Linked DNA regions of Homo sapiens. The protein of the gene in region 1 interacts with the protein of each later gene in a biochemical or structural test. Each region holds a gene or a part of one and is shown in the gene's direction. Other genes may lie near its edges.

Region 1 (3,820 bases):
CCTGGAGGAGTTTTTGTCAGAAAATGGCATTCCCCCCAGCCCATCTCAGCATGACCACAGCCCTCACCCTCCTGGGCTGCAGCCAGCTTCCTCGGCTGCCCCCTCGGTCATGGACCTCAGCAGCCGGGCCTCTGCACCCCTTCACCCTGGCATCCCATCTCCGAACTGTATGCAGAGCCCCATCAGACCAGGTAAGTGCCCTGAAGATTCTCCCTTCAGAAAGGGAGGAGGAGGGTGAATGGGACAGGCAAGGTAGAGTTAGCATAAACATCTTAACACTCAGGTTTTAGCAAAGATCCTAAGAGAGGTACCTTCTTCTGCTCCACTCCTGGCAGAGGCTCTCCCACTTTAATGAGCATCCATATCACTCATCTGGAGAGTCCGGTAAATACAGACTCTTTGTATCTACCCCTAGAAATTCTGATTTTGCAAGTCTGGAATGAGGGCCCAGGAATATGCATTTTAACCAGCTCCCCCATGGGATTCTAATGCAGCTGATCCAAGGGCTGCAGTTTAAGAAATAACTTACAGTTAATGATTTGGATAATTTAAGCCTCCATCGCATCTTGTATCTCTTTTCCTCATTCCCTAAACACGTAGATAACAGGTAGACTCTCAATAGGGTTTGGTTTACCTATATTCACTCTTGTCTGTCCTGAAGGAAAAAAAATGTGAGTAGGGATATGGGGCAGGTATTTTTTTTTCCATCCTTTTCATCTTGTTTTGTCATTAGCTGAGAAGTAGAATCTAAAAGCAGGCTCTCATATTGTGTTTCTGAGCCTTCTTCAGGACCAGACTCCATCTCTCTCGTTGCTATTCCCATAAACCCAACTGTTCTTATCTTTTTTTTTTTTTCATTTTCATCTGTCTATCACACTCAGTCCACCTGTATCAAAGCCCACAAGGCTGCAAGGTCAGCTGTAAATGATCTTGAAATAGTACACAAAAATATCACCTGAAATGACCAGTACTTCAAAACCCACTGCTAATGCTCAGATATAAACACAGATTGAAGGAGCTTTGAATTCATGCCTTTAGCACCCTGTAGTACCAAATGAACAGGAAGAAAGACGATTTCATGTGCACAGGTAACCAGGAACAAAGATTCAGCCAGATAAATCATCCGGAAGGTCACAGAGCTGAGGGCCTTAGCTGTGGGGGAAGACAGAAAGCAGGACAATGCGAAACTTGTGCTAGAGATTGTTACTGAACTCCGTGTCCTCGACTCTTGTAGAAATTTCTGTGGCACATGGAGCAAGATTTAAATGGAAGGAAATGATGTAAAGGAGGAAGAGAATACCCCTGCCTCGATATATTCATATTGAAGTTCCTCCTTTCAGACCTCTGTGTGCTGGCCCCTTCTCCAAAATTCACTTTGAATTATAACTCAAGGCCACTGGCTGGAATGGAATTAATTCTTAGCCTCCAGCCACCCCTGGAGGCTGTGGGAGCTTGGGAAAACATGCCTTTATGTGATCCTGATCCCCTGCTACTTAGAATGTGCGGTACCACTATCTTCAATTTTTTTGTAGGAACAAGCAACAAAATGAATAACCCTTCAAAGTGGGAAAACAGCCAGGAGAGAAGGGAACAGAGCCCCAGTGAGAGACACAGTTATGCCTCGGTCATTGTGCTCTGTAGACTGAGAATCACCACTTTGTAGCTGTGTGACCTTAGAAAGCAACATCATTTCTTGGAGCCTCAGTTTCCTTTTTTGTAGAAGGATACAATTTCTATTTGATTGAGTTATTGTGAAAATTAGAGATAATACGTATAAAGGGTCAACTGATTAGCAATGAGTCTTCTATTTGTGGAAGCAATTGTGATCATTGTTGTATGTGTCAACTTTTATTACTTATTTCAATCCCTGTCTTCTGAAATATCTTCGTAAGGTAACTAGGTACTGTATATAACCCTTCCTCTGGAGAGAAATGTCAGGAGATTTTGCCCAGTAGTTACTGGATTGGGGTATTTTGACCAACACTTGTAATCAACTGACAAGTATTTCTTAGTCCCCTACCAAATTTAGGATGTGTACCATGTTAGGAATACTATATTTTTTCCCAGGAGACCTGCACATATTGGGTGTTCACACCTTGGTTCCTACTGAGAGTCAAAAATTGGGGTTTTGGGATTTGAAGCAGCTTGAAAACTCATTTGTCAGAGCTCATTAGAGTCAGTATTGATCAGTGACTCTCAGAAGGCTTGGAATGCCCAATCAGAGTTGCAATGCATAGCAAAGAACTCCTGAGTTTCAGGGGATGTCATTTTGTAAGGTTCTGGTGGAAAGACACTGGGATCAAAGGGAACACTGAGGGTCTAGAAATAAGTTCTCCATTTAAATGTCTTATTTTAAATAATGGAAACACACTTCAACATAGTTTCCTTCTTGGAGTTGAAAACTCGATAGTCCTCATAGAAAAGGAAAAAAGTTAAACCTCGTCTTCAAATACCAAACTCAGGTAAAATAACACTCTGCTGTTCATAGATTGTTGATCATTATAAAGATGCAAAATAAAATTCTAAGAGATGTTGGCCTGATGGATGGATATTGCAAGCAAACCTGAAAAAGGAGAAAGTTCTTGATTATTCTGTGTGGCTCACAGGAGTGACCAGAATAGAAGTACCAAGTTAATCTTGAGGAAAATAAGTCCTCAGAAGGGAAGAGCACAGATGTAGCCTTGGTCATTCTGGGAGCTGTATAATTTCAGTCTTGATTGGTGTTTCTCAACCTTGGCACTGTTAATGTTTTGGGTAAATCTTTTTTTTTTTTTTTTTTTTTTGAGACGGAGTCTCGCTCTGTCGCCCAGGCTGGAGTGCAGTGGCGCGATCTCAGCTCACTGCAAGCTCCGCCTCCCGGGTTCACGCCATTCTCCTGTCTCAGCCTCCCGTGTAGCGCCACCACGCCCGGCTAATTTTTGTATTTTTAGTAGAGACGGGGTTTCACCGTTTTAGCCGGGATGGTCTCGATCGCCTGACCTCGTGATCCGCCCGCCTCGGCCTCCCAAAGTGCTGGAATTACAGGCGTGAGCCACCGCGCCCGGCCTTGGGTAAATCTTGTGTCTTACGCTTTATAGGATGCTTAGCAGCATCGCGGCCCCTACCTCCTAGTTGCAAGTAGGACCCCCAGTGCCCCAGATGTGACAAGTAAAAATGTCTTCAGTCACTACCAAATGTCCCCTGGGCATAATACAGTCACTCCCGGTGGAGAACCACTGGTCTAGAACTTCAATTTGGACAGCAAAATCTGGACTTACTTTAGGACCCTGTCACACGCATGGATAAACTACCTGCAATGCTTTATGGCAAAACTTTTAAGAAGGTCAGGGGACATTGGGTTGCCAAGAAGAAATAGAATATTAATAAGAGCATAATTATACACTTTAGTTAATAAAACTAAGCCATCAGGCTAATCAGGAGATAATTGCAGAGTAGTTTACCAAACAATTGTTTTTGGCTATTCACTCAGCATGCATCTTTTGAGCTATGCTCCGTTGTGGTGTTAGTGCTTCTTGTTTGGTTGAAGGGCAATGAAACCATGAGCTGATAAAGTATGCATTTCTAGGTCTACCCCAAGGATGTCTTGGAATGACAAGGTGAGCATTCTTGTGAATATTTATTTATTTATTTACTTATTTGTTTATTTATTTTTGAGATGGAGTCTAGCTCCATCACCCAGGCTGGAGTGCAGTGACACAATCTTGGCTCGCTGCAACCTCCACCTCCGGGGTCCAAGCTATTTTCCTGCTTCAGCCTCTCTAGTAGCTGGGATTACAGGCATTCACCACCATGCCCGGCTAATTTTTGTATTTTTAGTAGA
Region 2 (3,820 bases), on another chromosome or scaffold:
GAAGTCGGAAGAAGCAGACCCAGAAGGCTGACAAGCTCCATGAGGTGAGACCGTGGTAGGGGCAAGCCACCTTAGAGCCACACAGCCTCTGCCTTGCACGGGAGTGGGGGTGATGACTGTTCTCTTTATCACGATTTCAGCAACACTCATATCTAATTTCTGCCAGGTCCTTCCAGCCCAGTGTTCTCACTGTTTGCTCACGGACGTGTTCATTTCTCCCTCATCCACTGAGTGCTTCTCATGGTCAAGTTTATTTCATTATAAAACAAAACAGAGCCTCTTCTGGACCCTGATTCCCTTTCAAGTTCTTGCTCCATTTCTTTTCTTCCCTCACGTCCTTACTTCCTGTTTTGTTTTGTTTCCCTCCAAAGTAATCCGCTAACATCTTTGCTTCTTAAAAAAGAGTAGTTACACCTGTTGTCTCTGTGTCCCTGGTTCCTGGTTATTCCCCAATCCTCTGTGATTTAATTTCTGCTACCCCCTTTCCACTCAACACACATATATATACACACAAACAAACACACACATTCACACATGTACCCAATGTGTGTGTGTACACACACACACACACACACACACACCCTACAGAAACTGCTCCCATTGCAGCCATCAGTGCCCTGGCACTGCCCTATCCAGGACTCTCTTTCTGGTCTCATCATCCTTTACCTTGTTAGAACATTCGACACTTTGGACCCATCTCTTCTTAAAGCTTTCCCCTCTTTTGCTTCTAAAAGACCACATTTCCTAGTTTTCCTAACCCTCTTCGCCGATTTTTTTCTCTATTTCTTTGTTAGCCTTCGACCCTTTATTGGCTTAAATGTTGGTGGTGACCAGTGTTTCAAACTCTGCCCTTTTTTTTTTTTCTCACCCTGGAAGACTTAATCTATTAATCTGTTCTCCCAGCATCAGCTCCCAACATTGATTACTCCAGGCAGGCCCTCTGTCCTGGACCCTAGACCCCATAGCTTCAGTGTCTGCTGAGCTGTTTCTCCATGGGTCCACTGCAGGCTCCTGTGATGTACCACATCCATAAAAGAGTGTTATTGTCCGTTTACCCTGAGACTTTCTCTTCTCATTGTCTTCAAACTGCAGTTAATGGAGCGAACCATCTTTCTCATCACTCAAATCAGAAGCCTAGGATTTATCCTAAGCCATTCCTTTTCCCTCCGCCCTCATGCATACACCTGCATAATCCTGCAGTTGGGACGTGGAGCTGCTCCATACCAGGAACTGGCCTTGAAAGCATCCAAGGATCTATCTGAGGAATGGGCCACCATTCCATGTTCTTGTCTTTGTCGGGGTTGGTGTGTGTAATTAAAGATTTTAGTTTAGCTCTCTCCTGCTATACTTTCTTGTCTTTTTGAGACGGGATCTTGCTCTGTTGCCCAGGCTGGAGTGTGATGGCATGATCATGGCTCGCTGCAGCCTCCACCTCCCAGGCTCAAGCAATCTTCCCACCTCATCCCCTCAGCCCTTATTTTTGTAGGTTTTTTTTTTTTTTTTTTTTTTTTTTTGAGACAGAGTCTCTGTTTGCCCAGGCTGGAGTGCAGTGGCATGATCTCAGCTCACTGCAACCTCTGCCTCCTGGGTTCTAGCGATTCTCCTGCCTTAGCCTCCCGAGTAGCTGGAACTACAGGCGCCCGCCACTACACCCACCTAATTTTTCGTATTTTTAGTAGAGATGGGGTTTCACCATGTTGGCCAGGCTGGTCTCGAACTCCTCACCTCGTGATTCACCCGCCTCGGCCTCCCAAGTGTTGGGATTACAGGTGTGAGCCACTGCGCCTGGCCATTTTTGTAGTTTTGTAGAGGTGGGGTTTTGCCACGTTGCCCAGAGTAGTTTCAATCTCCTGGACTCAAGCGATCCACCTGCCTTGGCCCTGCAAAGTGTTGGAATTACAGGCATGAGGCATTGTGCCAGGTCTCCTGCCATGCTCGTCTCAGCAAGGCCATTCTGGGGCATTGGCAACATGGAAACTCTGAGGTGTGTTGGGGAGAGGAGAGGAAAAGGGCAATCTTAAAACTCTAACAATGAACAGAGAACAAATTTAGAATGTACATACTCCACAGAGAGGTGACCTTCCGATATAAATTCACAGTGTGGCATAAATCATAAATGTCAGATTCTTTCCTAGAAGTAAGAAGGCTGGGCCCTAGAAAGAGACTGAGGTCTCTAGACTAGTGTCACAGAAGGTGCCTCCTAGCCTTTGTTCTGAAGAATTTCCACAGAAGAACGGCAATGCCCTTTGCCTCCTTTCTTTCTTCCCCCTTGCTCCTGAAGCAATTGTGGTTCTAGTGTCATGTTACCAAAATAGCCCCCAGAGGGGACCTGTGGCTCCCAGTTAGTGCATGGCCCTGTATTCAGACCACATGTGCTGCTGGATGGCCAAGGCATTACTCCTGAAGAAGCTCCTAGTCCCAGCCAGGTACATTAATATTTTTAAAAACTAGTTTTAAAAACATCAGTTGTAAATCTGGACTGAATACGTATCTGGAGGACAATATCTTGGACAAGATCTTTCATGGAGCACAGTCGAGTAGATCCATTTCACAAATACCAAGGCATTGCCATTGGGTCACAAAGAGAGGAGGAAGATCTCATGCCTTGCCTGTCGGTGGGAAGCCTAGAATTTCCCAAGGAAAGGATGTTAATTTCCTACTGCTGCTGAAACAAACTCTCACACATTTGGTGGCTTAAAACAACACAAATTTACTATCTTCCAGCTTTGGCAGTCACACATCAGAAGTGGGTCATATTGGGTCAAAATGAAGATGGCAGCAGGGCTGCCTTCCTTCTGGAGGTTCTGGAGAAGATTCGTTTTCTTGCTTTTCCCAGCTTCCAGAGGCTTCAGTGTTCCTGGGCTTGTAGTCTCCTTGAGCCAGCAATGGCCGGTTGCGTTTTTCTCAGGCTGCGTTACTCTGGTGCTGTTTCCGTTGTCACATCTTCTCTGACTCCCCGACACCCTCTTTCACTTACAAGGACCCTTATGATTGCGTTGGGTCTGCCTGGATAATCCAGGATAGTCTCCCCATCTCACGCTTCTTAATCACATCCGCATAGTCCCTTTTGCTATGTAAGGTGACATAGTCGCAGGTTCAAGAGATTAGAATGTAAACTTCTGTGAGGAGTGAATCGATTATGCTGCCTAGCACAGAAGGTAAATGTAAATACTCACGGAATTTTACTACAATATCAAAAAAGTACCTGTATGAAGCGTTGGCTCTCTCGCACTTTCTGTCACTGCTGCATTTGATAACTGAGTGAACCAGGTGCCTGGGAACTTCAGAGTGGTGCCACCTTTACCCCTATCTGACCTCTCTTGGAACTGTGGGGTGGAGACCTCTTCTGTAGGGTCCCTGGCCTGCTCTCCAACCCAGAGACTGTGTTGCATGACAGTCATGCCAGCTGCCCTTTTCAGAAATGGGGTGGGTTGATCTGAAGCCCAGACACTCCACGGAAGAGCACCCCCTTCTCCTCTCTCTCTGTGGGGCTGAAGGAATGGGTCAGGATTACTCTCCACTGGCAGATCACCTCAGCAAGACCAGCTTTATTGAGAATCACAGGGTCAAAGAGGCCAGGACAGCGGCTCCACCTGTATACAGACCCCAGAGCTGTAGCCCTCACCTTAGCCTCACTAGCTCCACACAAGTGTCGTTGGTCACAAGCGGGTGAGGAAGCAGACGACTGGCTTAGGAAAATGGAAGTATATCCCAAACCTTCTGCAGAACCAAAGGAACATCATCTCTGAACCAAATCATTACTCACCACGTGAGTAATCCCTTCCCTGTTCCTTCCAGGAGGGCATTGTAGCTGTGTGTA

The links.
Region 2: the proteins of HLF (region 1) and BATF3 interact in a test that uses a peptide from one of them, tested with the Homo sapiens proteins (one large-scale study listed by IntAct).

Annotation. Positions count from the first base shown.
Region 1 is NC_000017.11:55,267,896-55,271,715, forward strand, and holds part of HLF (hepatic leukemia factor), read left to right. Parts: coding exon 1-191; intron 192-3,820.
Region 2 is NC_000001.11:212,693,185-212,697,004, reverse strand, and holds part of BATF3 (basic leucine zipper transcriptional factor ATF-like 3), read left to right. Parts: coding exon 1-44; intron 45-3,820. UniProt on the Homo sapiens protein: AP-1 family transcription factor that controls the differentiation of CD8(+) thymic conventional dendritic cells in the immune system.